Linked DNA regions of Homo sapiens. The protein of the gene in region 1 purifies or fractionates together with the protein of each later gene. This does not show direct contact. Each region holds a gene or a part of one and is shown on either strand. Other genes may lie near its edges.

Evidence for each region.
Region 2: the proteins of ZNF224 (region 1) and SORL1 purify together in Homo sapiens (affinity purification with mass spectrometry; 2 studies listed by BioGRID and IntAct, with this or other methods). This does not show direct contact.
Region 3: the proteins of ZNF224 (region 1) and LRP4 purify together in Homo sapiens (affinity purification with mass spectrometry; 2 studies listed by BioGRID and IntAct, with this or other methods). This does not show direct contact.
Region 4: the proteins of ZNF224 (region 1) and LRP1B purify together in Homo sapiens (affinity purification with mass spectrometry; 2 studies listed by BioGRID and IntAct, with this or other methods). This does not show direct contact.

Annotation. Positions count from the first base shown.
Region 1 is NC_000019.10:44,096,905-44,104,893, forward strand, and holds part of ZNF224 (zinc finger protein 224), read left to right. Parts: intron 1-901; 5' UTR 902-969; coding exon 970-984; intron 985-3,896; coding exon 3,897-4,023; intron 4,024-4,228; coding exon 4,229-4,321; intron 4,322-7,989.
Region 2 is NC_000011.10:121,601,852-121,609,840, forward strand, and holds part of SORL1 (sortilin-related receptor preproprotein), read left to right. Parts: intron 1-2,341; coding exon 2,342-2,473; intron 2,474-3,261; coding exon 3,262-3,388; intron 3,389-3,550; coding exon 3,551-3,720; intron 3,721-4,993; coding exon 4,994-5,106; intron 5,107-5,334; coding exon 5,335-5,439; intron 5,440-6,252; coding exon 6,253-6,325; intron 6,326-7,989. UniProt on the Homo sapiens protein: Sorting receptor that directs several proteins to their correct location within the cell. Along with AP-1 complex, involved Golgi apparatus - endosome sorting.
Region 3 is NC_000011.10:46,894,263-46,902,251, forward strand, and holds part of LRP4 (low-density lipoprotein receptor-related protein 4 precursor), read right to left. Parts: intron 6,117-7,989; coding exon 6,000-6,116; intron 5,715-5,999; coding exon 5,601-5,714; intron 5,242-5,600; coding exon 5,125-5,241; intron 4,771-5,124; coding exon 4,642-4,770; intron 4,416-4,641; coding exon 4,296-4,415; intron 4,043-4,295; exon of another isoform or gene 3,934-4,042; intron 2,733-3,933; coding exon 2,607-2,732; intron 2,074-2,606; coding exon 1,948-2,073; intron 1,757-1,947; coding exon 1,622-1,756; intron 1,030-1,621; coding exon 904-1,029; intron 558-903; coding exon 327-557; intron 1-326. UniProt on the Homo sapiens protein: Mediates SOST-dependent inhibition of bone formation. Functions as a specific facilitator of SOST-mediated inhibition of Wnt signaling.
Region 4 is NC_000002.12:142,120,395-142,128,383, forward strand, and holds part of LRP1B (low-density lipoprotein receptor-related protein 1B precursor), read right to left. Parts: intron 1-7,989. UniProt on the Homo sapiens protein: Potential cell surface proteins that bind and internalize ligands in the process of receptor-mediated endocytosis.

The DNA.
Region 1 (7,989 bases):
CAGAAGTGGTGAATTGCGGGTTCAGATTATGCATTGTTGGTAGGGATACCACAGAAGTGCTGAAATGTCCTTTTCATTGCAACATAACAGGGTCCAAGTGATGTCAGTTTGTCTCTTCATTGGTGATCTCAACCTTGTCCACTTGGCCGAGACGCTGTCTTTCAGATTTCTCCACTATAAAGTTACTTAAAAAAAATTGAAAAGAATAAAGTTTCTTAGGAATAGATAACATTATTAGTGGGCATTCAGCTGTAAAATGACCTTCTCCATTTATTCTTTGTTCAACTACAAATATTCTATCAATATGGCCTTAGAATTGACTCTTAAGTTAGATAACGTGTACATTAACAATTATTTTTTCCAACCTATTGTATCATATAACTTACTTATATCAGGTGTACATCCAGTGATCATTAGACAGTTTGCTGAATGGAGTAACCATCACCACAATTCGGTGATCATTTCATGCTCATATTGATTTCCTCCTGCCTACTTATGGTTAGACTTCATTCTCACTCAGATCTGAAGCAATCACTAATCAGTTTTCTCTATGCATTTTCCTACCCAGACATTTTATAGAAATGGAATCCTGCAATATGTGGTCTTTTTTAACTGGCTTCTTTCATTTAGCAATAATGTTTCAAAGGTTCATGTATGTTGTAGCATGAGTCAGTACTTCATTTCTTTAAATTTCCAAGTAAGATTCCATTGTATGGATAGACCATGATTTGTCTATTCATTTACCCACAGGAGGGCATTTTGGTTGTGCCGTTTTGGGTTTTTATGATTAATGCTGCTGTGAACAGTCATGTGCCAATTCACAATACACATCCCTGTTGGTGGGTGGCATCCCTGGCCACCTTTTCATGTCTCTTTTTCTGCCTTTCCTGGCACTTTGCAGGCACAATTCTGCTTTCCCAGGAACTGCATCACTCAGGACTCTGCAAGTTTCCAGAAGTAAGAGGGAAAATGACCACGTTCAAGGTGGGTAGGACTTGCTTCTATTACTCTTAAAATTCCCTCTCAGTACTTAAATTGTCACAAGTTTTCCTCTGTCTTGGGAAGACTCAAGGAGAAAAACAGACATTTGAGGATCTCTTGTGTACCATGTACTTCCTTTGTTACTTTTGAGTGGATTTTGCATTTGTTTTTACTACTTGTTTTCTTCTATCATTTATTCTATGGAGTAGACAAGATTGTAGGAATGGATAATTATTTCATTATACTACTTCTCTGCTCACACATTAGCTATTTTTATCCTGTGATACTCTTCCTCATGTGCATTCATAACTGTATTTGTATTGGTGATGTTAATCTAATTTAAATTGCACTCTTTGTATTTAATATTATATAATGTTCATTTTTAATGGTTGCACCATATTCCCATTTAATCGATGTTCCTTTTTAATTACTTTATACTTCCAGACACCAGGAACTCAGTTTTGAAAGGCTACTTTTGATGTGTGCCACGTTGGCTGTTTTGTAGATAGAGTATCCATATGTGGCACATCATGGCAGGCTGTAACTGTGGCTTCACACAAGGATTGCTGGAAGTTTCCACACAGGAAGAGCTAGATTCTCTTTCCCCCATGCCTGAGTCATGCCTTCTATGTCTTTTACTTACTGGCCTTTCTTTACTCCTTTATATACTAAGGAATTTGACCAAAGTAATATGTAAGCTAATTTTTTTTTTTTTGAGATGGAGTTTCACTCTTGTTGCCCAGGCTGGAGTGCAATGGTGCGATCTCGGCTCACTGCAGCCTCTGCCTCCCAGGTTCGAGGGATTCTCCTGTCTCAGCCTCCTGAGTGGCTGGGGTTACAGGCATGCGTCACCATGCCTAATTTTGTATTTTTAGTAGAGACAGGGTTTCTCCATGTTGGTCAGGCTGGTCTCGAACTCCCGACCTCAGGTGATCCACCTGCCTCGGCCTTCCAAAGTGCTGGAATTACAGGCGTGAGCCACCGCGCCCAGCCTAACCTAAATTTTTTGTGCATGATACTAGAAAATTTGCCAGTCACTTGTGTTTTGTTTCTTCATTTACTCCTCAGAACAGCTGAATGAGGCTGTTCTTATCTTCCTCTTAAACACATGAAATATGAGAAACCTGCTCAGGTTCAGACAGGAGACCAAGGGTCCAGAATATTAGTTATTTTAGCCTTTTTACTCAGTTGAAAGAGAGAGAAAAAGAAAGAGAGAATTCTCCATTGAGGGAACTGTGCCCTGTGGTGTGGGTGTCTGGAGTGTCCTGTTGAGTGATGATGTCCACAGGTGGCATCGCTCCTCCCTGGACCTACCTTGGGAGGGGGGCATCTTCTCTTCCTGTCGTAGTACCTCTTCCATGGCCCCCAGCACTTCAGGCACCCAAGGACGGCAATTACCACAATTGTTATAGAACATTTTAAAATTCATTATGGGAAAAGATGCCTTACACAAACCAGAAAATGTAACAGTCTAAGGTGAAAATATTTACCATTTGGATATCTAAAACAAGATACAATCCAAAATAAGAATCTTATGCCCAGACCAGGGAAGAAAATCCAAAGAAATACAAATAAAGGACATTACCAGGAATGTATAGAAGGAGAAAAACAGATGTCAATAAATATTTGAAAAGATGGTGGTATTCATTTATAATCAAATAAGTGAGAATAATAAAACAAAATCATGGCCAGGCCTGTGACTCACACCTATAATCCTGGCACTTTAGGAGGCTTAGGAAGGAGGATTGTTTGAAACCAGGAGCTCAAGACCATCCTGGGAAACATAGCAAGACTCTATCTCTACAAAAAGAAAAAAAAGAAAAAAACAATTTCTTCCTAATCAGATTACCAAAGTAATGGGAAAATTGATAACTTGCTTTTGGCTATGTTAAGAAAAACCAGAATAATGTATCCCCTTGAAAGATTTTGAAGTTAGGTAAAAAAAAAAATTGAGAAAACATGACATAATCATAATATTAAATTTCTGACATTTTGTTATTTAAAACTTACTTTAAATAGGAGAGTAAGATCTACCTGAAATGTTCTTTATTGGATTGGTAATCATGGAAAAGATATAAAATTAAATATTCATTATTTAGAATAACAATAGATTAGTTCCATGGAACACTATGCAGACATGAGATAAAATCGACAATAATTGACAAAAATAAAAATAGCTAATGTTTATTAAGTATTCAGTCTTGCTACACACTTTTCCCCAGTAACATACGTATATTCCACTGTTTAATTTGAAAACTATATCATGTGACGATCATTATATAGAGAGGAAAGTAATGCATTCAGGCCAACTTGTCCAAGGTCACATGACTGGGAAGGGACAGAGCCTTATATATGCGCTCTGAGGCACGCTGGCTGCAGATCATGACATTCAGTGTTGCAATTAATGTATGTAGTTTTTGCCTGGAGAGTATAGAGGACTCACTGCATAACTACTCAAACATGTCACCATAAGCTTGTCAGTTTGGCAAATGTTGAAGAAAAACAATAACATCCAGGGTTCGAGTTTGAGAGAGGAAGACAATGGGCATTATCAAACAAAGTCAGGACTGAATTGCTAAATGTTGCTGAGGGTGATTGTCAAGATTTATCAAAACATATATATGTGTAGCCCAGGATGCCACATTTAGAGTCCTAGAGGGTTACTTACAAGAAGACTCAATGATTGCACGAAGTAAAAATACAGGAAGTCTTTTTCATCTTTGTGTTTCTGGTGGAACTCAGGGAAATCAGTCATTGTCAGGATACAGACAGAATGAGTAGGAAATCTACGAGTTGACCTATGTCTCTCAAGATCCAAAACAACTTCCCACCCCTCCCCTCTGTCTGCTCAGTGCCACCCCTCTCCCAGGAATCATTGGTCATGAGACTGAGATTGCATATGTTTGATGCTATAGGAGGCAATGACCTTCAAGGACGTGGCTGTGGTCTTCACTGAGGAAGAGCTGGGGCTGCTGGACCTTGCTCAGAGGAAGCTGTATCGAGATGTGATGCTGGAGAACTTCAGGAACCTGCTCTCAGTGGGTGAGGACAGGCACCCTCTGTAACAGAACGTCAGGCCCCAGAGGTGGCTTTGTATCCTAGGGTACAAAGTTTCAAGTCTTAATTAGTAACTTGAACCTATGGTTCAAGTTTGAGTGTGCAGTAAGAACCTAAATTTCTGGTAAACTTTACCTTGATATTACCTAGAATGTGTTGGGATTAAGCATGTAAGTTTGCCTGTTTGCAGGACATCAAGCATTCCACAGGGATACTTTCCACTTCCTAAGGGAAGAAAAGATTTGGATGATGAAGACAGCAATCCAAAGGGAAGGGAATTCAGGTAAGAATCAAGCAACTGTGAATCCCTGTATGTCTCTTCCACCTGTTTCACTTCTGTCCATGCTCAAATCCATTGCCCTGGCCTAAATGGCCAAACCTCTTTCTTGGATTATTGACAACCATCTTACACCTGGTGGCCCTGCCACCCGCCTTCACATCCTGACATCTGTTCTCATAGCAGCCAAAGTGATCCTTAGGAAATGTAAGTCAGATTGCCATTCCTCAGCTCAAAAGCCTGTTTGGCTTATTTTTATTAAAGTTACAACCTCTTTAATTGACTTTTAGAGACCCTGTGATCTGCTCTTCATCCCCTCCCTGCCACCTCTCTAACTACATCTCCTGTCCTCTCCTTCTTGCTCTGTCTTTACCAGCCACTTTATTCTCCCTGCTGTTTCTCTGTCCTCCCAAGGGCACTGTGTTGCCTTTTGCTGGTACCCAGTGACCACAGACTGAGCAGACTGAGAGACAAACATTTATTATTTTTGTGTTCTTTAGGGATGAAGTCTGATACATCTCACTGGGCAATTATCAAGTTGTCTGTAGGGCTTCATGTTTTCTGGATGCTCTTGGGGAGAAGCCTTTACTTTAGTTTATCAGTGTCTAGGCACTGTCCATACTCCTTGGCTCTTGCTTCCCTTCCTCCATCTTCAAAGGCAGCAACTTGCATCCCCATAGTCATGCTCCCTCTGCCACTCTTCTTATGCCTTCCTCTTTCACCTTTTGGGTCCCTTGTAATTGTTTTGATCACTCCTGGATAATCCAGGATGATCTTTCTGTTCTCTGGTTAACTGACTAGCAACCTTAATTGCATCTACAACCTCTGTTCCCCTGCTGTATAACAACGTGATCATAAGTCCTGGGGACTGGATGTGGACATCTTTTAGGAACCATTATTCTGTCTCTACAGAAGCTTCTGTCTCAGCCCTTACTTGCTCATCTCAGTCACTGGGATACTCTGTCACCTCAAAACCTTCTGGCATCTCCTTCAGTTATTCAAGTTTCTTTTCAGTTTTAAAGTCATGAGAGAAGCCATCCTAAACCACTCTCTTTATAATTCCATTCTATTTTGATTCTTCTTGTGCTCTCTTGTACCAAGTCTCACATACTTCTGTTTATCTGTCACTTCTACATGCTGGACTATAATGTCTAAGGAATTTTAACTCTTCGTGGCTGTATTTTCAGTGCCTAGAATGGTCCTGGTACATGGCAGGTTTCCAAATTTTTGTTAACCTGATATATGAGCTAATGAATGGGGTGACTTCACTGTCTCCTGAAATTATGGAGAGAACTAATAAGTGAAACACAAACTACGGTGAAAGAGAGATATTGCAGAACATGTTTTTTGTCTTCCAATGGCCATGTATTTAATTACAATGTTCTTAGATTCCGTTATTTGATTGCCTTGTGTGTTTACGGTGGACCCACATCCCATGGAAACTTCTAAGCATTCTATTTATTACCATACTGAGCTATATGCCTTCCATATGACTTATCCTGGAGCTTTTCATAGGAAGCATATTCATTTCTGGAAAGAAATCATTTTTGAATGAACATTCTGATGTCTACTAGTGAGACAGCTCTTCTACAAGGGGAAAAAATTCTCCATTTTGTGATGTGTCAGATAATAACCAGCTTCCCAGCTAGCTTTCCTTTGAGAGATTTACCCATCTGCAGCCCATTTGCCTTTCCAAAGTCTGCATGCACGTCACTGACCCCAGGTTTCTTCTTCTCCTGGGTGGGGAAGAATGAGGAAGAGAGCAACACAATTCATGCAGCTAAACATTGCCTATATTTCTGGTCATCTTTGTTCAAAAATATGTATATTTCTGCACCTTCATTGTATACAGATTTAATTGTTAAAAACATAAAAGAATACAGATTTTACAACATAATTTTTCCTTTATTTTTTAGAGACCTAGTGCTCTATTTTCAACTTTATAACTTGGAAGGAATCAGGAAACTGCCCTCTCAAAATACTGACATCCTGAAAGAGACTCTCTCTTCTCCCCAAAAACCTCTTAAGTAACAGTGTGTTAAATATATCCATATTCCAGCGTGTACCATTGGGTACATATTTACCTATTACTGTTTTTCCAAGATTCAACCTTGGAAGTTAACTTTCCATTTGACTGACTTAATTTAGGACTTGGTAATATCCTGACCAAAGTTGTCAACATTTTTATGATTGTGAGTCATAGTAAGAAACACATCTTTCACCATAACCAGGACAAACATTTTTCATGCATGTAGATGTCTATGGGTTACTTCAGTAGGCATTTCATGAAATGATACCTTTCTTGCTTGTCATGAAGATGTGATCATTTCTTTTCTAGTTCTTTTTTTCTAAATGCTCATTAGAAGGTTTTAAATTTATTTTATAGCTCACTTTTTGTCTATATTCTTCCATTTGGAAATAAGTATAAAGGAGTATTTATCTATATCATATATTTTCTGCCCTCTTTTTTCTTCTTTTTTTATTTTTTTGAGACAGGGTCTCACTCTGTCACCCATGCTGGAGAGCATTGGCATGATCTCAGCTCACAGCAACCTCTGCCTCCTGAGTTCACATGATTCTCATACCTCGGCCTCCCACGTAGCTGGGATTATAGGTGTGCACCACCACACCTGGCTAATTTTTGTATTTTTAGTAGAGACAGGGTTTCACCATGTTAATCAGGCTGGTCACCAACTCCTGGGCTCAAGCAATCTGCCCGCCTTGGCCTCTCAAAGTGCTGAGATTACAGACATGAGCCACTGTGCCTAGCCTCTGGTCTTTTTTATTTTAATGAGAGTCTAATATCCCCACATGGAACCAACCCAGGGCATGACCCCTCAGGCATTCTTTTTATCCCAAGTGTTCTCACCACCTTTCATTGTCTCATCAGGAGCATCACCCTTTCTTTACCCCTGTCAGGTCCAACCTTTCAGATTCCCATCAAAACTGGTTGTCTGTTTCTTACCTATCTCAGTTAACCAAATTATTGTTCACATCTACAGAAAAATAAAATTAAAGATACATGTTATGCCAAATTCTTGTGTAGGAATATTATGAATATGTAGATATAAACACTCCTAGGCCTTTGATATTATTGTGAAGAGTTTAACTGGCTGCACAGTTTAGAGCAAGAGTTTACAGAAGATCGCTCTCACTTCACACCAACTGCAAGTGTGGGGATTTCCCAAAACTACCTTCACATTCAGTAATTACCTAGAAAGATAAGCAGAACTCACTGAATGCTTTTATACTAAAAGTTACGGATATTTACAGGGTAGAGATGCACATTACATTTCACCAAGAGAAAAATAAGAAACAGTTCTGGGAAGTACCAAATGAGGATCTTGTATTGTATTCTCCCCATAGAGTAGGATGCGTTAAATTCCCAGAATTAAGGTGTGACGTAGAGGGTACAGCGAATCAGGGAAGCTCACCTGAGCCCTGTATTTTTTTTTTTTTTGAGACGGAGTCTCGCTCTGTCACCCAGGCTGGAGTGCAGTGGCGCAATCTCAGCTCACTGCAAGCTCCAACTCCTGGGTTCTTGCCATTCTCCTGCCTCAGCCTCCCGAGTAGCTGGGACTACAGGCGCCCGCCACCATGTCTGGCTAATTTTTTTGTATTTTTAGTAGAGATGGTGTTTCACCATGTTAGCCAGGATGGTCTCGATCTCCTGA
Region 2 (7,989 bases), on another chromosome or scaffold:
ATACTTCTGTGATGGGGGTTTTGGTATTTTTCAAAATAATCCCCTCTGGGCATAGTCTCTCCCTGGCAATCCTATATAAAATGGCATAACCTGATCAGATTAATGTACTTGTTTGCAGTTTCTCTCAATAGAAGATAACTCCCTGAGGACAGGTCCTTCATCTGTTTTACATATCCCCATATTTTTAACATCTGGAGCAGTGCCCGAGTCATGGTAGGACCTCCATGAATGTTCACAGAATTCCATCTTGGGCTTCTGAGACTATTACAGTAGTGGTTCTCAAACCTTTCTCTAATTCTTGAATACACGTTTATTTGTCATGAGCTTCCCCCCACCATGGCAAACCAATTTCAGCTCAGTATATAATAGAATTCTGAAATGCAATGATCTTCCTGGAGAATGGGGGATTATAGTTTGTGAAAAGCCTCATAAGTGGTTTTGATAGTTCCCTTCTATTGACAATTTTTTATCAGGATTGTTTTTGAATAAGTAGTGAACTGAAGTCTGTACCTCCATCCTAGAGACTCGTGCAAAGAAGTCTTAATTCTTCTTTCTCATGAAAACTCATCAGTGGAGAACACTTGTCAGAGTGGTCTGCATGTCTTCTCACCACCTCCCCCATCCTTGTATCTTTTCACCTCTAGGAAAATATCCCTGGATCCTTTATCCATTCCTCTTGACCATCCTGGTTGCTCTCATGGGAACATTATCCAGTTTCTCTACCTATATCTCAAAGTGTGGTTGTTTATGTTAGGAGGAAGGAGAAGAGGGAGGGGGTCGAGGTCAAGAGGTGACCCATGACCACATGCCTGGGTCTGAAGTGGGGCGTATGAAGCTTCCTTGCTCAGGTCACAATGCTCATATCACCTTTAACATAACTTTGTTACTTGTGTGTACACTCTCTTTATTTCCTCAGGGCTTAGTTTCAGGAAGGGACTATTATCATCCTTGCTTTAAAATTAAACTATAAACAAAATTCCTTCCATAGTTAGCTTGGCCTACGTGCAGAGATAGGCAGAGGCCGTTAACCTACAAGATGTCACCATGGGCAGGGGGCAGGGTGCGGGGAGCAGAATGGAGCCACTCATGTTCAGCCTCCTTTTGTCTGTTATAATTTCCCCATTTTCAAAGCCAGTGATGTTGCATGTCTCTCACCTGTCTTCTGTATTCTCTCTGTCTCTCACCACAACCAGAAAAGGGTCTCTGCTTTTAAGGACCCATGTCATTAGACAGAGCCCACCTGGATAATCCAGGCTGAACTCTCCTACCTATGGGTCCTTAATCTAATCACACCTGCAAAGTTGCTTTGTTACATAAGGTAACATATTACAGGTTCCAGGGATTAGGATGTGGACGTCTTTGACTTGGAGGAGCAAGATTGATTTTAGACCCTCATCACTGGTGGGATTGGATTTCTGATGTAGCCCTTCCTTGTCCAGGACTGGGCAGGCAGGTGTGAATCTGTATAAGGAAGGCCTCAAGTTACTGTTCCTGGGCTCAACCAGCTACATAGCAGATTTGTACCACCCAGGTACACAGCCTGCATAGCAGATTTGCTGTCTACAGCCATTCTCACCTTTTCTCTTTTCAGGAGCATTTGCAATTATACGGTCATTGCTTTCTTTTTGGAGCCTCCCGTGCAGTTTTAATCTACTTTCAGAACTGGAGAGCACATCACATTTTGGTCAATAGCCTAGACATACAGTTGCATAACCCTTAACTTACCAGTGCTCATTATTTGCATTATTTCATTTTCTGTTCAAGTACTTTGAAAAGCCAAACAACTTTAAATACTACATAAAGTATGCATGCCTCTTAATATTGTTGGGATTCATCTCATTGTTATTTCTGTTACTCAAACCAGAAATCAGCTCCTCTTTCTAGATTGCAAACTAATAATAGTAGCAGAATAATTAATAGTACTATAGAGTAATAGCTACAGTTTGTTGATGCCGGCCAGGAGCCAGGCAGTGTTCCAGGTGTGTGATCTCATTAGATCCTTGCAGACATGATAGTGATGGAATTGTTACTTCCATTTTTTATAGGGCAACTGAACTCAGGTGATATTAAGCTGTTTGCTCAAGCTCATGCAGATCTAGGATTTAAACTCTAGTTTGTTTGACTCCAAAGTGCTCACTCTTCCCGAATGCAGATTCCAGTTGTTAATGTTAGATGAGATGGCACCTTAGTGCCGGTATAGATTCCACCACTGGTCATTCCAGAGGTGTGTTTTGAAGCAGAAGCCAATTAGTACTTTGCCTAAATGGGAATAAACTTGGGCCCAGCCTTTAGTACCATACGGCCCCTCCCCGTGGACTTAAGAAGCCTCTCTGTGTTTCAGCCACACACAGCACCTTGACTTGCATGAGCAGGGAGTTCCAGTGCGAGGACGGGGAGGCCTGCATTGTGCTCTCGGAGCGCTGCGACGGCTTCCTGGACTGCTCGGACGAGAGCGATGAAAAGGCCTGCAGTGGTGAGTGCCGGTCCACGGGCTGGGCTGGGCTGGGCTGGGCTGGGAGGCTCGCTTACCCCAGGGCCCCTCCTGTGTAGACCTTGAGCTAGGACCCTTTTGAACTGTTGCTCAATCTAAGGATAAAACAGATTTGTGCCTAGTTTTGGAGCCCCAAGTGAGGTGAGCCTTGGCCAGACTCTGATACAACATGCAGCTGTCTCCTCCCTGTTAGTGAAATGCTAGTCTTGGATTTTTTTTTTTTTATGGACTTCCCACCTCATGCCCATACACCATGGCTCTCACAGTCTCAATCTGCTGGTGGGATTAACTCAGTTCTTATCTCTGGAGTGTCTAGTAATGGACCCTATGACATGGTCCTTGGACTTGTAGCATTCTCTATGGAGAAATAGGCTTAAATTGTCATAGGCAGGAGGAAGATGAAATTCGAGGGAAAATATCACGACCGGAAAAGTAGGAGACCCTAGGAGGGATTGTATAGGGAGGTTTCAACTACATTTTCTGAGATTTCTTTTCAGATAATGATTATGGCCTCCTGATAATCTAGATCATGGTAGTTCTGTTTAAAAGCAGGAGTCCTTTGAAATCTAAGGATTTGTAAGATGTAACTTTTTTTTTTTTGTATTTTTAGTAGAGACGGGGTTTAGCCACATTGCCCAGGCCAGTCTCGAACTCCTGAGCTCAGGCAATTTGCCCGCCTCGGCCTCCCAAAGTGCTAGGATTACAGGCGTGAGCCACCACGCCCAGCCAAGATGTAACTTTGTTTGTCTTTTTCTCCTTTATCTCTCTAGATGAGTTGACTGTGTACAAAGTACAGAATCTTCAGTGGACAGCTGACTTCTCTGGGGATGTGACTTTGACCTGGATGAGGCCCAAAAAAATGCCCTCTGCTTCTTGTGTATATAATGTCTACTACAGGTAGGTCCCATCTTTGTCATGGGAGATGAAAATGATGTCTTCATTGCCCCAGGATGTTCTGTAAACTCTCTAGTGGCATGCACCATGCTATTAACGGAGTCAGACATCTCAGCCCCCCATGCTGCTCCAGTGTGACAATATCTTTATTTTTTTTTGGGCCAGGGTGGTTGGAGAGAGCATATGGAAGACTCTGGAGACCCACAGCAATAAGACAAACACTGTATTAAAAGTCTTGAAACCAGATACCACGTATCAGGTTAAAGTACAGGTTCAGTGTCTCAGCAAGGCACACAACACCAATGACTTTGTGACCCTGAGGACCCCAGAGGGATGTAAGTGTTTCAGTTAATTTTTATGGCATGGGTAAGACCTCAGGTCGGGGTTTGTGAGGGTCTTTCTGAGTATTCTCAGGAATGTGGGAACATATGTGTGCCTCACATGTACAGAAGTATGGTGGCTAAGCTTTATAGTCTTGCCAGAGTTGTCAAACATCTGTTCTTCTTACTGCATCAGAGACTGTTCTTGTACCTTAAGTTAATTTAAGATTCTCTCCACCATTGCCCTCTTGCATTTTTTGTCTAGTTTCTACCTCTACGTTCCTCCTCTAGATATTTCCTAGTACTTGGTACTTAGGAGGAGGTCATCGTCATTAAAATATGAGGCATATCAGCAATTTTGTGGCTAAGTTTTTTTCTTTTTGGAGACAAGGTCTCACTCTGACACCCACACTGGAGTGCAGTGGAGGCGCAATCACTGCTCACCACCTCAGTCTTCCCAGGCTCAGGTGGTCCTCCCGCCTCAGCCTCTCGCATAGCTGAGACTATAGGTGTGTGCCACCATGCTCAGCTAGCTTTTTGTATTTTTGTACAGAAAGGGTTTTGCCGTGTTACCTAGGCTGGTCTTGAGCTACTGAGCTCAAGCAATCCACCTACTTCAGCCTCCCAAAATGTTGGGATTACAGGTGTGAGCCACTGCACCTGGCTTTGTGGCTAAGTTTTTAAGAAATTTACCAAATTTATGTGTCTAAGAGAGTTCCTCGCCTCCTCCCTACTTCAAAGTAGTTGACATGAGCAACTGTCTGCTTGAATGTCATCTTTTTTCATTGCCTAAAGTATCCTGAATATGCTAGCGCTAAACTCATTAAGGAGCCTGCTTTGAAGATGATCAAATTCATTTGGATATAGAAATTCTGTGATGTTACAAAATTAGTCTTATTTTTTGGTAGTCATGCCCACAGTACAGTTTTTGTTGTACAAGAAGCAGAGGCAGCAGGTGCTGTCATTGACAATTAAGATCTCAGCATGGAAGTCTCAGGGTCAGTGGTGACTCAGCCTGCCCAAGTGATTCTATCCTGCAGCCCTTATGAGCCACAAATTTACCACACACTCAACTGAGCCATGATGTGATGTGTGGACGGCACACCTTGCTTTTTGGAAGAAGAGGAAAAGTGTCTTTTCAATGTGACGACCAAGCTAGCAGCCTTTCTAGTGGATAGTCTCAATGCCGGCTGTGGAGTCGTTCTTGTCCTTGTTCTAAGCCCAGGAAAATTCCTCTGGTTGGCTGCTATGCAGATGGGTTTTAACCTTGAGTTGACTCTTTTTCTAGTGCCAGATGCCCCTCGAAATCTCCAGCTGTCACTCCCCAGGGAAGCAGAAGGTGTGATTGTAGGCCACTGGGCTCCTCCCATCCACACCCATGGCCTCATCCGTGAGTACATTGTAAGTACCTTCCATGAGTTGGCTGTATGTGTGTTGGGGGTGCTAGGAGATTTCTGGGTATTCTGTATGACGAGGGGGTTGATTTGGTTTAGCTTTGTAGGTGATGACCCATCCGTCAGAACATTTTGCTCCTCACCATCTTTTCTCTCCTCCAGCCTCCTTGCAAGATATTAGGATGCCCTGGACCTTTGGTTCCCTTTACTCACATTTTTTTTCTTCTCCCTTTAGGTAGAATACAGCAGGAGTGGTTCCAAGATGTGGGCCTCCCAGAGGGCTGCTAGTAACTTTACAGAAATCAAGAACTTATTGGTCAACACTCTATACACCGTCAGAGTGAGTGTCGTCATCCATTCCAGCCATCCATGCAGTCTTAGAACTGAGCGAAATTGCTGCTGTTTTGTGAGAACTCTCTACTCACCTTTGTGAGATGCATATTAGTAATCTGCAAAATACCCAACTTCTTGCCCTGGGACGGGGGAGCTCAGAGTTTCTTTCAGTCTCTTAAATGGACACCACAAAGAGCTTGACATCAGAGTTTCTGTAGATAACCGGGCGTTTATGGGAATGCCGCTTTCCCTGCTTTTAACTCCGGTATTCTGCTAGCTTTCCAGCTCCTATACTTTTGCAGTCAGCTCTTTCCTGCTTATCTTTAGCTGCAGGATGATGCAGAGCTATGATAAGTAGTCTTTCTAAACTGATTTTATGAGGTTCTTATGAAATATATTTTTAGTATTTTTAGCAGAAAGAGATAGATTTTGTGAACAACATGTTTGCTGAGACCATTAAGTGTGCACATTCATGACTCTCACACTGATAATTTTGTCAGTACCCTTTTTGTATATGTGTGTATTTATGAACACACCCCCCCATACACCTGCCCTTTAGAAGAACCTTGATATTTGTGGATCAATAGAAATTTTCTGATCTCAGGACTGTCATAATGCCCTTTACCCAAGCTCCTTCCCTTGGCTTTTTTGCCCTCTTATTTCAGATGCTGGGGCCTCTGAATATTCTGGATCACTCTGTATAAAATTTTTCCAGCCTCACTGCCAAAATCTCACCCCTTTAGCTCATTCAGTATTCTTACTGTATGGTGTATGGTGTATTGCCTTTATTTCATATTAATTCACCCTCTGATTTGAAAAGGTGGCTGCGGTGACTAGTCGTGGAATAGGAAACTGGAGCGATTCTAAATCCATTACCACCATAAAAGGAAAAGGTAAATGATCCCAGCATTTGCAGATTTAGAGAAAATATTATACAAACCCTTTCAAATGACTTTCAGTATGACCGGAAAATGGAGAAACGTAGTTTAGAAAAACATCACACAACTTTCTTCTCCCCAACACACGCACATTTTTGGGTGTCTCTGTAGTGCTTTAGATAGAGTCTTTTTGGGGTGACTGAGTGTCTTTTTCCTCCTAGTATTGAGCATTTCTTCTAATGCAGACATACAAAGGGATTTCCAAAGGCCATCATGCGCAGCCCTTTGTGAGTAGTCAAAATATCTAAAATAGAAGGAGTCCTTCCTTCTCACCAAAGCTGAAGATGATTTTGTGCATGTTCACTTACGGGGTTTTAAAGAAAGCACCATGCTGACTCTTGTTATTCTCCCAGTGGCACTGGCAAACTGTGTGTAGGTGGTTTTTTATCTTGTACTAGAGCTGATATTAGTAATAACTGATGGCTTGCCAAGGGCAGGACACTCTAGAGTGTTCACTGCTTTGCGTACATCAGCTCATCTAATTGAACAGTCAGAACAACTACAAGAAAGGATAAGGAACTGGAATGAGGTTATGTCACTTGTCCCAGGCCACACAATCAGTAAGTGACAGAGCTGGCCCTGGAACCTGATCTGCCTGACTCCAAAGCCTGTGCTCTTAACCACTGTGCTCCACGCTTCTCTCTGGGCTGAGACACATGCGGCCTACTGGACCGCCCTGCTTGCCGGGGGTGGCGGGCTCAGCATCTTGCACGAGTGCCTCATGAGGGCAGAGATCTGGTCTGTTTTTCTCTACTCTATCACGGGCATCTAGTAGAGACTAAGGAAATAATTGATGATTGAGTGAATCGAAGCAGTTAAATGAAGGGTTCTGGCATACTTTGGGAGATGGACTACAACTCATTTTCCAGAGTGGTTTTCCTGACCTTAGCCTTGACACTGGGGACTTGCATTTCTGGACTTCCAGGTATTAAAACCAGATGGACACTGTGGCATGCAATAGGACTGGAAGATTTTACTTTAACCTAAGCCTGTGAGGAATAGGCTCTGGGTCATGGAGAGTCACTATCTAGTCCCCTCTAAAATCTGGAGCCTTTGAGATCAGGGCCCAAGGCGGCCAAACGTAGTGCCACCAGATGGTCTTTGGAGCTGAATGCTTGCAGGTATTAGAGAAAGCCTGCTGAATTCACACTCTCCTAGAATTTTTATTGTTGTATCTCTTCTCTCTACAAAGTCTGTTTCAAAACACTGACCACACATACCAAGAAGGGATGTTGGAAGAGCAACCAAATACATGTACCTTGAATTCCGAAGGCACAAGTCACAACTGCATTTGAAAATCTCAGTGGATGGTTGGTTCTCTTTAACTTCTTTTCTGTGATTTTGATGAATCTCAGCTGCTTGCATATATTTGGGCTAGGATTTGTACAGAAGGCAGCTGTGTGCCACATCCAAAAAGTGTTTGTTGTAAAATATCTGTGACATAGTATCATAATAACGTTTTAAGATAAAGGACAAAGACAGCAGAGGCATCAGCCAGACGCGCCAGGTTAATTGGTGAATGTAGTGGATTAGTAATGACAATGAGAAAAGCCACCATTCCCTGAGCACTTCTTATACACTAAGCACCATGCTATTGTTGCTCGTGAATGGATCCCTTA
Region 3 (7,989 bases), on another chromosome or scaffold:
CAATCGAAACAAAACTCAGAAATAAACTAGATGCAAAGGCTGATGGAGAACTCTGTCATCCATAAATCTGATTCCCATGATCACAACCACCAACGTGGTCTCATTATTCTCACTGATTGAGCTCAATCATGAGCAAATGTTATATTTGAACCTATAAAATTGATATACATTAACAAATGTTTTCTATATTAGGGCTCCAACTAAGATTTCCCTGGAAGAAAAAGATGTCCTGCTGCCTAAGGTTTGCAAACCACTGGCCTATTCCTCCCACCGTTGCTGCGCATGTGGCATGGCTCTGCCCCTCTCCATGGGGCCTTGTTCCCTACCTGGGCTCTCCAGCCCAGTAGACACAACCTCCTCCACGTTGCTGCCGTTGAGGTTGGCACGGAGGATCCGGTCCAGGGTGACATCTGACCAGAAGACAAGCTCGCGGCGGTGGTGGAAATCAAGGGCAATGGCATTCTCCAGGTTGTTAAGCAGCAGTGTGTACTCAGAGCGGTGTGGCAGCACCTGCCGGATGTCGATGCGATTGGCGAACAGCAGCACAGGCTCTGGCCCTGGGAAACAGTATAAACATGGGATACCCACTGGGTTTCAGAGCCGCCCCTGGTACCCATCAGCAGGTCTTCAGCTGACCGATGGAGCCACTTGCTCACAAGGACATGCCCCAAGCTGTCAGCATCAGTACCAGAAGAGTGGCAACCTTTAAACTATATTCCTCCACCCCTCCCCACCCCACTCCACCCCAGCAGCATTTTTCTTGGGGCTCAGAATGCAACTGTTGCTGCATTTTACTGTGACAGAAATCTCTCTACCTCTCTGCAAATCCCTGAGCACCAGAGTACCTGGCCTTCCTCCATGCTCGGCCCTCTGCCCACCCAGCCAAGTGCCAACAGCCCTTACCCAGAGCCTTGCAGCTGCGCCGGTCGGGCCGTAGTTCATAGCCTGTTTCACACCAGCATTGGAAAGCCCCTTCGCTGTTGGTGCAGCCCTGGCTGCAATACCCCTCCTCGGCACATTCATTCACATCTGGGAACACCAGGCAGGTCAAGAGATCTCCCTTCTGTCGTCCTCCCACTCCCGCTCCCAGGCTGCCGAGCTGCTTTTCTGCCCACATCCCCATCTACTTTCCAGGCCTAGTGGGAAGGCTGTCTAAGAAATGGTTAAGGGCGGCCGGGCGTGGTGGCGCACACCTGTAGTCCCAGCTACTCAAGAGGCTGAGGCAGGAGAATGGCTTGAACCCAGGAGGCGGAGGCTGCAGTGAGCCGAGATCGCACCACTGCACTCCAGCCTGGGCGACAGAGCGAGGCTCCATCTCAAAAAAATAAAAATAAAAAATAAAAAAGAAGAAATGGTTAAGGGCTTTAAGGTCATGCAGACCTGGGCTGGAATCCCAACTCTGCTACTCGCCAGCTGTGTGGCCTTTGGTAAGCTACTTATCCTCTCTGTGCTTCAGTCTCCCCATCTGTGAAATGGGAAGGATGATCCCCACCTCCTAGGGTTATTGTGAGGACGAAATGAGGTCACACCGTTCAAATGCCTGACCCATAGGAAACACAGCTGCCTGTCTGCTGCCCCTGCTCAGAACCCCGACTCTGCTGCAAACCAGGCCCCAGCTCACCTTGGCACGTGTGCCCATCCTCTGTGAGCCGGTAGCCTGTGTGGCAGGTACACTGCACTGCCCCCCGCACCATCTGGCACTTCTGGGCACAGCCACCGTTGTTAACATTGCAGTTCTCCTCACCCGTCCGGGGCCCTGTGCCAGCCAAGCCAGAGTTGGGAGTTGAGCCCAGAATCCTCCCCCAGAGAGCCAACTTGGCATTCCACCTGGACCACAAAGAACAGCTCCCAAAGCTGCAAGAGTCCTGAGGGAGGATTCCCTTTGAACCCTATGGGTGGGGTTCGGCCACAAACCATGGGCCAGGTCCGCCCACTGGGGACACTCACGGCAATTCTGCTGTGGGCTTTCGTCGCTGTTGTCACCACAGTCGTTGACCCCGTTGCACAGCTTCCTCTGCCCAATGCAGCGCCCATTCCAACACAGGAACTGGTCCAAGGCACATTGGGGGCTTCCTAGAGAGATGGAGGGTCAGGTCATAGCAAGGCAGGGCTTGGGCCAACAAAGAGATGGGAGCCTGTCATTTTCTAGGGTAAGCTGGAGACAGATGAGACTCAAGGTGGGAGGGTGAGGGTCCTGGGCAGGAAGCAGCTCAGACAGGGCTGGCTGAATGTCTGCATTTGCTTTCTCCCCAGGACTCCACAGTGGGATGGTGAGGAATATGGAACAGAATGAAAAAGTGCAACCACATGCTCAATACTGGGTGTGGCCAGGGGAGCACACATGGGGGCTGCCAGATGGAGGGTAGTCCTTCCTCACTAGACCAGAGCTAAAGGCACTGGCTGTGTGTGAGTTAGAATAGGAGTGGCAATTGAAACTCGCAGCTCTGATACTGTGCTCCAGGCCATAAGGCCGCAGGTCAATGATGCACCTGGATTTTACACTGGTAAAACCTCAACCCAACTGGAAAGATACCAAAGCACCCTCTTTTCCACCCTTCCACCCCAACTATAGGCTAAGGGTTCTGGGGCACCCCGGGAGACACCACCTGTATTCTCACAGTTCTCTTCATCGCTGTTGTCTGCACAGTCGTCCTCCCCATCACAGCGCCAGGACAGGCGGACACAGCGGCCTGAGTGACAGCGGAACTGTTCTGCCGTACACATGGAGGTGGCTGGGCAAAGCAAAGGCTTAATGAAAGGTGGGCCCCATTTCAGCCTGAAATTCTCCCTGCCACCCAAATCTGCAGCTTATATCAGTACCCATGCCACTCTTGACACCGGGATCACAGCTGGTCTATATAGTGTCTTTGTGTGAATCAGAAAAAAGTATCCTTTCCTCAAGACACTTTACTGCCATCTGCTGGAAAACTGCCATGATGAGTATATAAATCTATTATGTGACTGGCTTCCCTTTGGACATATTGCCTCTGCACAGTGCACAACCTACACAACTGTACATGGTGGTGGTCTTACCCAGTGTCTTCAAGATTTATGGGTAGTGGCCTGTTTGTCTTTTTTTTTTTTTCTTTTTATTTTTTTATTTTTATTTTTTTTTATTTTTTAATTTTTTTATTATCATTCTTGGGTGTTTCTCGCAGAGGGGGATTTGGCAGGGTCATAGGACAATAGTGGAGGGAAGGTCAGCAGATAAACAAGTGAACAAAGGTCTCTGGTTTTCCTAGGCAGAGGACCCTGCGGCCTTCCGCAGTGTTTGTGTCCCTGGGTACTTGAGATTAGGGAGTGGTGATGACTCTTAACGAGCATGCGGCCTTCAAGCATCTGTTTAACAAAGCACATCTTGCACCGCCCTTAATCCATTTAACCCTGAGTGGACACAGCACATGTTTCAGAGAGCACAGGGTTGGGGGTAAGGTCACAGATCAACAGGATCCCAAGGCAGAAGAATTTTTCTTAGTACAGAACAAAATGAAAAGTCTCCCATGTATACTTCTTTCTACACAGACACGGCAACCATCCGATTTCTCAATCTTTTCCCCACCTTTCCCTCCTTTCTATTCCACAAAACCGCCATTGTCATCATGGCCCGTTCTCAATGAGCTGTTGGGTACACCTCCCAGACGGGGTGGTGGCCTGGCAGAGGGGCTCCTCACTTCCCAGTAGGGGCGGCCGGGCAGAGGCGCCCCTCACCTCCCGGACGGGGCGGCTGGCCGGGCGGGGGGCTGACCCCCCAACCTCCCTCCCGGACGGGGCGGCTGGCCGGGCGGGGGGCTGACCCCCCCACCTCCCTCCCGGACGGGGTGGCTGACCGGGCGGGGGGCTGACCCCCCCACCTCCCTCCTGGATGGGGCGGCTGGCCGGGCAGAGGGGCTCCTCACTTCCCAGTAGGGGCGGCCAGGCAGAGGCGCCCCTCACCTCCCGGATTGTCTTGTTTTTTGAGATGTCATCTCACTCTGCTACAGGGACGCCGTCTCGGGTCACTGCAACCTCTGCCTCCTAGGTTCAAGCGATTCTCCTGCCTCAGCCTCCCGAGTAGCTGGGATTACAGGCATGCGCCACCACACCCAGCTAAGTTTTGTATTTTTAGTAGAGATGGGGTTTAACCATGTTACCCAGGCTGGTCTTGAACTCCTGACCTCAAGCAATCCACCCACCTTGGTCTCCCAAAGTGCTGGCATTATAAGCATGAGCCACCGCGCCCAGCCGGTAGTGGCCTCTTTGGCTCCACAAGCCTTCTCCTTAGTTCAAGCCCAACCTAATTCCATTTCCCCACTCACTGCAGTTGCGCTCATCAGACTGGTCATCACAGTCCGCGTCACCATCGCAGCGCCAGCCTGCATTGATGCACAGGCCACTGTCACACATGAACTCCCCAGAGCGGCAGGGCTGGTGGGAGGCTAGGGAAACACAAGACTTCTGTCTCTAGCCAGTCTGTGCAGTGTCCCATGGCAGACTAGAAGGCCACAGCCCCAGAATCCCAGTTCCTCCATCTCTTCCCAAGAGGGACCAGAAAATCCAGAAACTCCTCTCTGAACTCCTGCCCCAGCTGGCGACTGTGCCTTGCCACCCAAGCAGTTCTTCCCAGCCTGGCCTCCCCACCTCCCAGCTGGCCAGAGTACTCACAGCAGTCAGACTCGTCTGACCAGTCTCCACAGTCATCGTCGCCATCGCAGTGGTAGATGTCGAGGATGCAGCGTCCATAGGCACACTGGAACTCCTCCAGGTTGCAGGGGGGCGCTGGCACTGCTGAGGCTGGAGGGAAGGCAGGGGTGGGGAGGGGCACACACTCAGGCCTGGATGAAGGAGAGGGGCCCTGATTCCTCAAGCAGGCAGGATGCTCAGGCAGGAGAGCTTCTTCAAGTGAGATGTAACCAGGTTTCATCTGGGACAGCCCTTATAGACGCCCATATTCAGGTGGACCAAAGGAAGCCTTCCCTTCCCACCTGGGGAACTTGCTCCCTCCCTAGCTCAGCCTAGGAGGAGCTGCTGCTGAGGCACCCATGCTCCTTGCCCTTGGTACATGCACTCCTCAGCCTCGCCCTTAGCCAATGGGCAGAACTGTCTGCCCTCATCCAACCCAACAGCCTGAGGTCTGGGGCCACTCACGACAGTTCTCCTCATCGGAGCCATCTTTGCAGTCGGTGTCACCGTCGCAGTACCAATGCTCAGCAATGCAGCTTCCGTCACTACAGCGGAACTCCTTGTCGGAGCACTTGCGCATGTCTGGGGGGATGCGATGGGACAGCAGTTCTGAGGGGGCCCCACAGGCAACCCTCTCACCCTCCTCTCTGACTCCCAACCTCACTGGCTTTGGCGGGTCTGACCTAGCCCCCGAAAGGCACCCCAGAGTCAGTGCAGACTCTCCAGGGAGAACGGAGGCCCTGGAGAGACTGGGCCTCAGCCTCCTGGTCCACAGTTTCTGGGGGGTCTGAGCGGCTCTGCCCCCTCTGCGTTCCTCTAGCTGCTCCAGATATCTGGGCAGTTGGAGGTTTGGCAGTGCTAGGGCCATTGCTGCTATCTTCTCCCATGGCCAGGCCACCCACTGGCCACCTTGCCTGCCTTCCCCCGTTGGGGTCACCCACCACACTGCTCATCGCTGTTGTCGCCACAGTCATTGTCACCATCGCAGTGCCACAGACTCCGGATGCAGTAGCCATTCTGGCAGGGAAACTCGTCCTCCTCACACTCCCGGGGGGCTGTGGGCACAGAGCAGTCAGGCTGCTGCAGGCAGTGGGGGTCTGGTGCCTGGAAGCCTGACTTAAAGCCCTCCGGAGCAGTCAAGTAGCTCCAGTGCTGCCCTGAGGGCTCCGAAGGAGGTGGCTGCCTCTCAGCAGCTTATCTGACTTCGAGAGGAAGTGAAAGGACAGGACAAAGTGCTGAAAACACAAGGGCTCATGTGGACCTGGGGCATTGCTTTCTGATTGAAAATCCTTTCCCAGTGGAACTCAATGGAGTTCCGCCCAGCCTCTGCCAACACTCACGACAGTCCTGCTCATCCGAGTCATCCTCACAGTCGTTGTCCCCGTCACACACCCAGGAGCGGCGGATGCACTTGCCATTGTCACAGTGAAAGTCAAGAGGGGAACAGGTAGGTAGTACTGAATCCCAGGAAAAGAAAAGAAAAGTCAATCAACCTGGTATTCTTACTCAGGCTCAACTAGGCCAGATAGCCTTTTGCTCCAAATCCCCTTGTCTTTTTTTCTTTTTTTGAGACCGAGTCTTACTCTGTCACCCAGGTTGGAGTACAGTGGCGCAATCTTGGCTCACTGCAACCTCTGCCTCCTGGTTCAGGCGATTCTGACTCAGCCTCCCAAGTAGCTGGGATTACAGGCATGCTTCACCACACCTGGCTAGGTTTTTTTGGTTTTTGTTTTTGTTTTTTGCATTTTTAGTAGAGACAGGGTTTTGTCGTGTTGGCCAGGCTGGTCTCAAACCCCCGACCTCAGGTGATCTGCCTGCCTCAGCCTCCCAAAGTGCTGGGATTACAGGCATGAGCCATGGCGCCTGGCCTTTTTTTTTTTTTTGAAACAGAGTCTGACTCTGTCACCCAGGCTGGAGTGCAGTGGTATGATCTCGGCTCACTGCAACCACCGCCTCCTGGGTTCAAGGAATTCTCATGCCTCAGCCTCCCGAGTAGCTGGTGTTACAGGTGCCCGCTGCCACACCCAGCTATCTTTTTTTTTGTGTGTATTTTTAGTAGAGGTGGGTTTTCGCCATGTTGGCCAGGCCAGTCTCGAACTCCTGGCCTCAAGAGATCCACCTGCCTTGGCCTCCCAAACTGTTGGGATTACAGGCGTGAGCCACCACACCCAGCCCCCTTGTCTGTTTTATAGTCCTTCCTTACTGACTCCTAGGCCCATCCCCAGCTGATGGAGAAGCTAAGCAGAAACTGCAGCTAAGACAGAGATTCAAAAGGTAATTGTGGTGAGGGGTTCACAGGGTAGGGGAAGAACAACCCAAAGAACTCACAGGAGCTAAGAAAACATAAGAAAAACATGAGCAAGAGAAAGAAGCGCCTTTTTCCCCTCCTTTCCTCTTGTTAAATGATGATTGACACACCCGGGCTCAATTTCCAGTTCATTACGTAACACTCTGAGCAAGTCATTTACCCTCTCTGAGCTGAAGTCTTTTTGGCTGTACAATGGGGATAATTATACTCAGTTCATAGAGGCCTTTTGATATAATGCCTATGAAAATGCTACATGAAAGTGAAGCATTTATCATCAACACAATTAGCTGAACTGGTTAGGGTTAATGAGGTCCAGGTTGTACCTCCGTTCCCATTAGACTAATTAGCCACCCTCAGACATAGATGCTACAGGTAGGTCAGAGATTGCGCCTCTAATCCAGACTATTGGCTTAGCAGGGATATTTCTATATATCCAAGACAGGTCACCCTGGCCAACTGTGCAGATGTTACCATGCTAGGGGAAAAGGGAGACTTAAGGAAAATATAAGTTTTTTTTTTTTTAGACGGAGTCTCGCTCTGTCGCCCAATCTGGAGTGCAGTGGCGCGATCTCGGCTCACTGCAAGCTCTGTCTCCCGGGTTTACACCATTCTCCTGCCTCAGCCTCCCAAGTAGCTGGGACCTCAGGTGCCTGCCACCACGCCCGGCTAATTTTTTTGTATTTTTAATAGAGACAGGGTTTCAGCGTATTAGCCAGGATGGTCTCGATTTCCTGACCTCGTGATCTGCCCACCTCAGCCTCCCAAAGTGCTGGGATTACAGGCATGAGCCACTGCGCCCGGCCTAAGAAAATATAAGATTTCTTACAAAGTTACTAAGAAAGGTGTGGCTGGGCGTGGTGGTTCATGCCTGTAATCCCAGCACTTTGGGAGGCTGAGGTGGCTGGATCACTTGAAGTCATGAGTTCGAGACCAGCCTGGCCAAAATGTTGAAACCTCATCTCTACTAAAAATACAAAAAATTAGCTGGGCATGGTGGCACATGCCTGTAGTCCCAGCTACTC
Region 4 (7,989 bases), on another chromosome or scaffold:
AGCCACCATGCCCGGCCTTTACTACAGTTTTCTTGGAATTTCCAGGGAGGGTGATGAATACAGCCAATAATAGCTTTGTTACAATTTCTTCCCTTTTTCCTAATTAAATATTCATCAGCAGGAACTTGAGTGTCAGTACAAACTCTTCTCAATCATGTCAAGAATTCAGGGACAATTGAAAAGGAGCTCTTTCTTTAAAACACTGCAAATTTCTTCAACAAACAAACCCAAATAAGTCTTCATAGGCCAATGCCTGTTTCTTTTGCTATTATGCTGGTTTATGTTGATAGAAATAACAGCAAAATTATTGCTTCCATACTTGTCAATGCTTAAAACATTGCTAAGTGTATCATTTTAACTAATTCCCTAAAGAATACTGTGAGTCAGACTCAATTAATTCCATTTTACAGACATGGCATAGGCAAACACAGGGTGTTAGGAAATATGGTATTAATAATTCTGAAATATAAAAGAAAAAGCAATAAGAAAGTAAACAATATTGTAGGGCCCACATATGACCATCATGTGACTTTTATTGTGAACCATGTTTTACACAAATCAATAAAAGGCACTGCAAAATGGAATGTACCCATTTAAAATAGCCTGAAATAATTTATTATCTGATTAGAATATTAACCCTTTCCCCCAAAGATTATCTTTTGCGGCTTTATTTCATGCCTATCCTCCCTAATACATAGAATGGTGCTGCATTCGTTCTTATAGAAAATCTTTCTAAACTAAAAATGCAAATCTCTGTTGTAGCTTGTCGTTATTGCCACTACTACTCCCTCATTCAAGCCATCAACATCTTTTCCAGGATGAATTTGATAATCCCTGAACTGGATTCATCATTTCCCTTCTTGTCCTTCTTTTCAGACCAAGCATGATCTCTTTAAAAAGTAAGTTGCATCATTTTCACCTCTGATTAGACAGCCAGTAGCTGCTCAAAATCAGAACCAAACCCAAATGCCTCAATTTGATCTGCATGACCCTACCTGACCTAATCTGACTTCACTGTAAATATGGCTTTCTCTACTTCTGTTCTCTCCCAAACACACACAGTTTATTTCAGACAAAGTGACCTGCTTTCTTTAAAATACCAAAATCACAACTTCCTCTCAAGGGTTGCATAGAAAATTCCTCCCTCTAGATGACTCAGAGCTTGTCCCCTCTCGTCACTTAGTTTTACCAAATATGTCACTTACTCAACAAGGCCTTCTGCGATTATAACTACGACTCCCAATTGCATTGTCCTCAGTCACATTACATTATTTTTCTTTCTTTTTAGCAAGGATGTTATTTATTTATTTGTTTGCTGTTTCTGTCTCCTCTTGCACTAAAGCCCTATCAGCCCAGTTACATTGTCTACCTTGTTCACTTGCTTCATTCCAACCACGTAAAATAGTGATTACCACTTATTTGCTCATCTTTGTCAAATGAGTGAATAAACACATGAGTGATCACCAACTATATGAGTTGCTTCAAGGATCATGTGATTCAGCAAGAAAAAAAAAATTTGAATGAAAAGCGAAGGTATGCTGAAAATGTAAAGAGCTTCTTGCTATTAGTAACTCATATTAAGCAATTAATATAATTAATAAAATAATAGGTATTTATGTAATGCAATACATGATACGATGTGTTTTCACAGACATTACACTCTGTGCACTCACAGAACGTTAGGGTCATAGCTATGTTTATCTTCTCAGAATGGGTCGGAGCAATTTTCTGTAAAACTCTGGTGGTGTTTTCATAGACACCCAGATGAAAATACACACAAGGTAAAACCCTCATGCCCTTCATTACTTTATGTTCTCCTAGCAATGAGAATAGCAAAGGAAGTCAAAATGTGCTAAGATGTTGGTTCTTTCACTGTCAAGATTAATTTCTAAATATTTGACAAGATCACTAGCAAGTGAAAATAGGAAGAAAACGTGCTAGGAGAAGGAACTGTAGAATTGAGTGTAATACAACAACGGACAAAGAAGAAGGTTTAAGTTCTGAATATCTGATATATTTAGTATATCTAAATTCAACATTTAGATTTAGATATTCTAAATGTTGATCATGTTGGATAGTCATCAAATTTTCTTGCAAATAAGATTAGTGTGCTGTTGTATTACAGGACATCAATATAGTGCTCCTGAACTGCTAGTCTTTGTGTTAGAAATGACATCAATACAAGGGCGCTCAGCAAGAGTGCCTGAATTCTGAGTTAGTAATTCCATCTACAAATCTGATGTAGTTATTATGCTTAATGAAAATCTCAAAAATATGGATGCCCAGTGGGCACAATCTGTAGTGCTTTCACCTGATGAGGCAAGAATCTCACTCACGAGGTGGTGTCATTATCACTGTACTTCCAGATCTTAGTCATGAAAAAAATGCCTTAAAAGTTAATAGAGTTGGATAAAGTGGAATATTTCAATAAAGCACACTTGCTATTCTAACATTTTTGTCCCAATAAAAATATACCATTAAAAGCTTTGGAAATGCACAAAATGTCTTAGATAATCTAAAAACTGAATCATTTTTAAATCTCTATAATATCTATTTTAGCAAAAGTTTAAGGTTCTAATTAGCTCAGCTACTTGATCTGAGCAGTAGTGGACAGAAGCTTCAATAAATTCTGACTATCAAAGTTCTCTTTCTTGGCATTGTTTTTCTTCCTTTCCTTACACATCCTAGTTTCAAAAGAAAACAGATGATTCTAAACACATTTCGGTTATCAGCATTACACCTACAGCTTTTCTTTCTCACAAATATCTTAAGATATGCTAGGAACACACAAAGCAACCATAACTAAGTTTCATTTCTCCCCAAAACTCATTGTTAGTTATCTTTTCTCATTTTAAGAAGAAAGGGCTAAGATGACAAATCGTCATTAAAGAAAAACTCAGCGGTAGAAAAATTCTTAAGGAATTATATATTCGTATTTCTAAAGTTAAGCAGTCTTGGAAATCTTGAAGGATGTCAATGCAATGTGGAAAAGTTAGGAAGGGATGTCCTATTGATTGCAAGAATAAAACAAGAGACGATAGGTGGTACCTTGATCTTACCTAAAGAAGAAACATATTCTTTTGACTAAAATGAGGTCATGTTTCAACAATACCTGTCTTTGGTCTGAAGGCTAAGCCAGTCAGGACAATGAGGTGTATGCAACTCAGGAAGAGATGTCTGACTGTTAATAAGAATGTATTGTGAGATGAAATGTAATGTCGGTATCTTAGCAAGGCAACATGATCTATCTTCTTCAAGAAGTTTTTTTTTTTTTTTGGTTATTTTTCTCTTAACAAAGTTGGAAGAAATTGTATATGAAAAGGTACTTTCTCAACTTCTGTAAAGGATATAGTTATAATATTATTCATGTTTAAATGGAAACTTTTAAATACACAAGCTTATATCTGAGAAACTTTTATATACGAGCTTATATTTGAGAAAAATAAGATTAAACAAATGGATCTGTGGTACAAATGTATTAATCAAAATTAATTTTCTTTCTTTTCTAAAGGTAAAGACACCTTTGAAAAGCGTTACGTATTTACAACTATTCTGCAATATTTAAGAAGAAATCCCAAATGTAGACAATACATCATTATTAAACAAATATGAGTAGAGTTATTGAACAACAGAAAAACATGTTTTTTTTAATTTTAATTTTAGATTTGGGGGTACATGTGAAGGTTTGTTACATAGGTAAACATGTGTAACAAGGGTTTGTTGATCATATTATCTTACCACCCAGGTGTTAAGCCCAGTGCCCAATAGTTATCCTTTCTGCTCCTCTTCTTCCTCCCACCCTCCCCCTTGAGTAGACCCCAATCATGTTGAGACATGATTATTTCCAAAATGAACATTACTCTTTTCCACTAAGGATACTTACAAATTTGAAGTAATAGGGAATAAGATCAACAAATGGGTATACTCATTTATTTATTCATGCCATTGCATTTTTAAAAATCATAATTGGGTACCTAATTGTAGACTAAAACTAAGTTAATGTGACTGCATATGAAAATTATTATAGTCATATTTAAAAGAGCATTTAATCCTGTTGTCCAATTTATGAATGATTTCCACTATATATATTCTTTATTGAGAGAAAATCTTTGAAATCACATTTTGGAATATATTTAAGTTTTTTTTAATGTTTCACAAAATGGAGAAATACAAATTCAGTTAAAAAGTAAAGACAAAAAGAAAAATAATAAATTTCCACTTTCAATATAGTAAATTCTCTTTGAGTACAAATGAATTCAGAATACTTATTTATTTTCTAATAGTGTTTTAAACTTGTATAATACCCCATTATATAAATATGTAGTTACTACCAAAAATATTTCATTTGCCTAGTATGAGAGACACAACAGCAAAAGCACATATGATTTGCTCTGCAAACTAGAAATATGTTGCATAATTCTTTCAGGGAAATATGTTGTTGTTATTGTTTCTTCATAGAATCTCAATTTAGGCTTTTCCTGCAAGACCAGTCTTACTTTTTTTTTTTACAGGATGTATGGCTATTATTTAATAGTTTTGATTTCCATTTAGTTACTAGTCAGTTTCATCAATTGGTTTAGTCAGGGAGCTCAGTCAAAATATGTGGGCTTGTATAGAGATAGCCTAAATAGAAAGGATGGAGAGAAAGAGAGATGGAGAGAGTGAGACTGACTCTACATTTTAATATCACTCAATTTAGAACAGAGCAATACATAATACATACTTTCTAACTTGGCCTTGTAATTATGCCAGGGGAAAAAGGGAGGCCATCTGATCATTTATGAAGAGGAAAATATAGATTTAAAATTGTGAGGGCAGATTATAGAAGACAAACAGAAAAAAAACAGCATATACATTTGGAAGATGTAAGCTTACTTGTTGTGCTGAATGGCAGAATCTCCTGAATCCTTCATTCTCCTTTCTCTAAAATAGAGGGTTCATATGTACTTGGTGAGATTGACATGTTATTCAAATGAGAGAGGACTGAAGAGCCAGAACAGAGATTCAATACTATTGCAAGTATAATACTTTTCAAAATTGAGTGAGTGAGGTAAAGACACTCATTCTGTGCCAGTGGAACTCACATATGGAAATTAGTCCAAAAACCAACTTTTAAAAACTCAAATTATTTTTAGAGATATTTTCATTTTTTGTCTTATTTACTGTTTAAATAATATTTTATCCCAAAAAACTAATAAGTTTTAAAAATCTCCATCCAAAATAAAATAACTGGAGAATGTTCCCAAGGCCTATAGACTATACAATTTGTGATTGCTCTGTTGCAATTTCATTTCTATGTCTCTAGACAATGGTTTGTGACACAGGTTAAATTTGGGAATAGCTATCCATGTGAAAATGTATAGCAACTCCACAGAAGAAAATAAAAAGCATCCCTTGACATTTTTCTGTTTGATTAGCTAATTTTCCCTACTCTCCCCCCTCCTCTGCCAAAACCAAAAGAAAAACCTTCTTATTTGACCTTTCTATGCATCAAGATAGTTTTGGTCATTATTCTTGGATTATATGGGGGAAGCCAGGTTTCTTGAAGAAATTTAAGAAAAGTTTTAAAACTATCTAAGGTAGACATAGATATTTTCTCATAGGAGTTTGGCTGAGCATATATTCTGATTAATTCATAATGGAACTCAGTCTTTGGCTTTATTTTCTTTAGCATTCTGCTACTAAATGTATTGCTTCAAATTATAAGCATTGGGTATACCATAATTATATTCATTTCAAAAGCAGATAATTTTGACACGTGTTTCTGCCACACAGTCAGATTCTGTTAAAACAAAATACTTGTTATATCGAAATGTATTAGAATATTATATGCTATGAGTCAAAAAATAACTTAAAATTTTTTTCATTTCACTTTTTTTTTTGTCCAGATAAATAGACATGTTTATCTGGAGTTTTCAAAAGCAAAAGTTTCATTCATAAAAACCATCACCAATTTTCAAGCCAGAGTGGTATTTTTAATGGCGTTTGTGCCAAGGAAAGCCATTTTAAAGCAGATATACAGACACACATAAACACACACAGAGAGAGATTAAAAACGGGGTTGGGGGCAATTGTATAGTTGGGTTCCACTTACTACTAACTTAGTTTGACGAATGATATCATGTTGGCACAGGCATGTTTAACTTTTAGGATTAATTCTACTTTCTTTGAATGCATCTATCTAGAATGAAGACAAGTGTTTCCTTTGTACAAGAATTGTTTTGACAGACAGCCACAGAAGATAGAGAAATCTATCAGTATGTTTGATTGGTACTTTTTACTACACAGAATTCCTATAACCAGGAAAATGCTGAAGGAAAGGGAGGGAGAGTTGCACATTTCACATTAAGATACAAAAATTAATGGCAGAAACATAAAAAACTGGATCCATATATAGAATGGAGAAAAGACATAAAGTTCCCTCAACATCATAATCCTTGTAGAAGACCAAGTCCTGTTCAGTTCAGGTGACTTTAAATGGAGCTGATTTTTATGGTATCCCCTGGGCTGAGAAAAGAAATTGACAAGGTAACTGGCAAGAAACTAATGTCCTGGATCCAATAGATTTGCAAACTAAGTATTTCTGCATACCTCCACCTTGAAAAACAAGCAGCATTTAGAAAGTGTCATCTAAGTCCTAAGAATACATTAACCATATCACTCATCTAGCACCCTTTCTAAGAAAATTTCCTTTACCTTCACTTACATTTTTAAAAAATCACTTCCATATTTGTAATTCTAGCACAGTTAATATTTAATTTTTCTGCAATATTCTCATGTCTCTCTCCATTCTTAGAGGTCTAATTATATTCAGATTCACACTGGTGGCACTTTCCTTAAATTATTTTTATACTGTAAATATTTTCATATAATGTTTTTAATAATGAGATAAAAACATTTTAAGAAATTATTTTGTCTAAAGATATTTTAACCTATTCAAGAAATACTGATTCAGATTCTGATGTATGGCAGAATCCATCCATCCATCCATCCATCCATCCATCCATCCATTCATCTTTTTCCTAAATTTATCTTCAGCTTTCTCTTAACTCCATTTTTCCTCCTGAATTCTGTTTTCTGCAATTCACATTCTTTCTTATTGTTTTAGCACATTTAAATTCTTTCTTTACCTTTTCCATTTTCTCTTTTCTCTCTCACTCAGTTTAAATTTGAGCTTGAGAAGAGAGAAAGAGAACAAATTCAAAGATTAGCAACCTCTTCAAAACAAAACTTTAATGTTATTTGTGGCATATGAAGAGACATAAATCGCAGTTCATTCTTCTTTGAGGGGAGATTAAAATTTTGATATACATTTAATTGCCATTGTTTGATGGTTTTCTATACAGATACATTAAAATGACTATAACAGCATGAACTTTAATTATTTGGAAATGTGTCTCCACATTGTATCATACTCGAGAATTTAACACAGACTAGCATTAGGCCTCTCAATCCCTTTTCAGAAAATTTGACACTTTAAGATATACTTCCTTTTAAGTTTTAATCCTTATCAAGCAATACTTTGATATGATATGACATTGTTATATGACAAATTAGTTGATTCTAAGTGAATCTGATTTATCTTCCAATTTTGGCTGTTAAGAGTTACAAAGATGTTTCCTTTTTAAGATGTGATAGAATGTAATAAAAACTTACATGTACATTAGTTTAGCTCTATATAGAATCAATATAAACTAATAAAATAAACAATAAGGAATTAAAAGACAAGTGCACGTATATGGTTTGAACATAAACATACGAGTTAGTTTCAAGCCTTGTTCTATTTAATACAATGTTTGAACTTATGAATGTATAAAGGAAAAACACAGCTAGAAGGTAATACAAACACTTCTGATATAGTTCATACAGTTTGAGAAGCTACCTATTACACAATAAGTACACGTAGAACCTAAATGTGAATTCTCATTTTTTGTCAAGCAGTTAGCTCTTGCACTACAAAACGCATCTGTATAATTCACATGCCTGTTC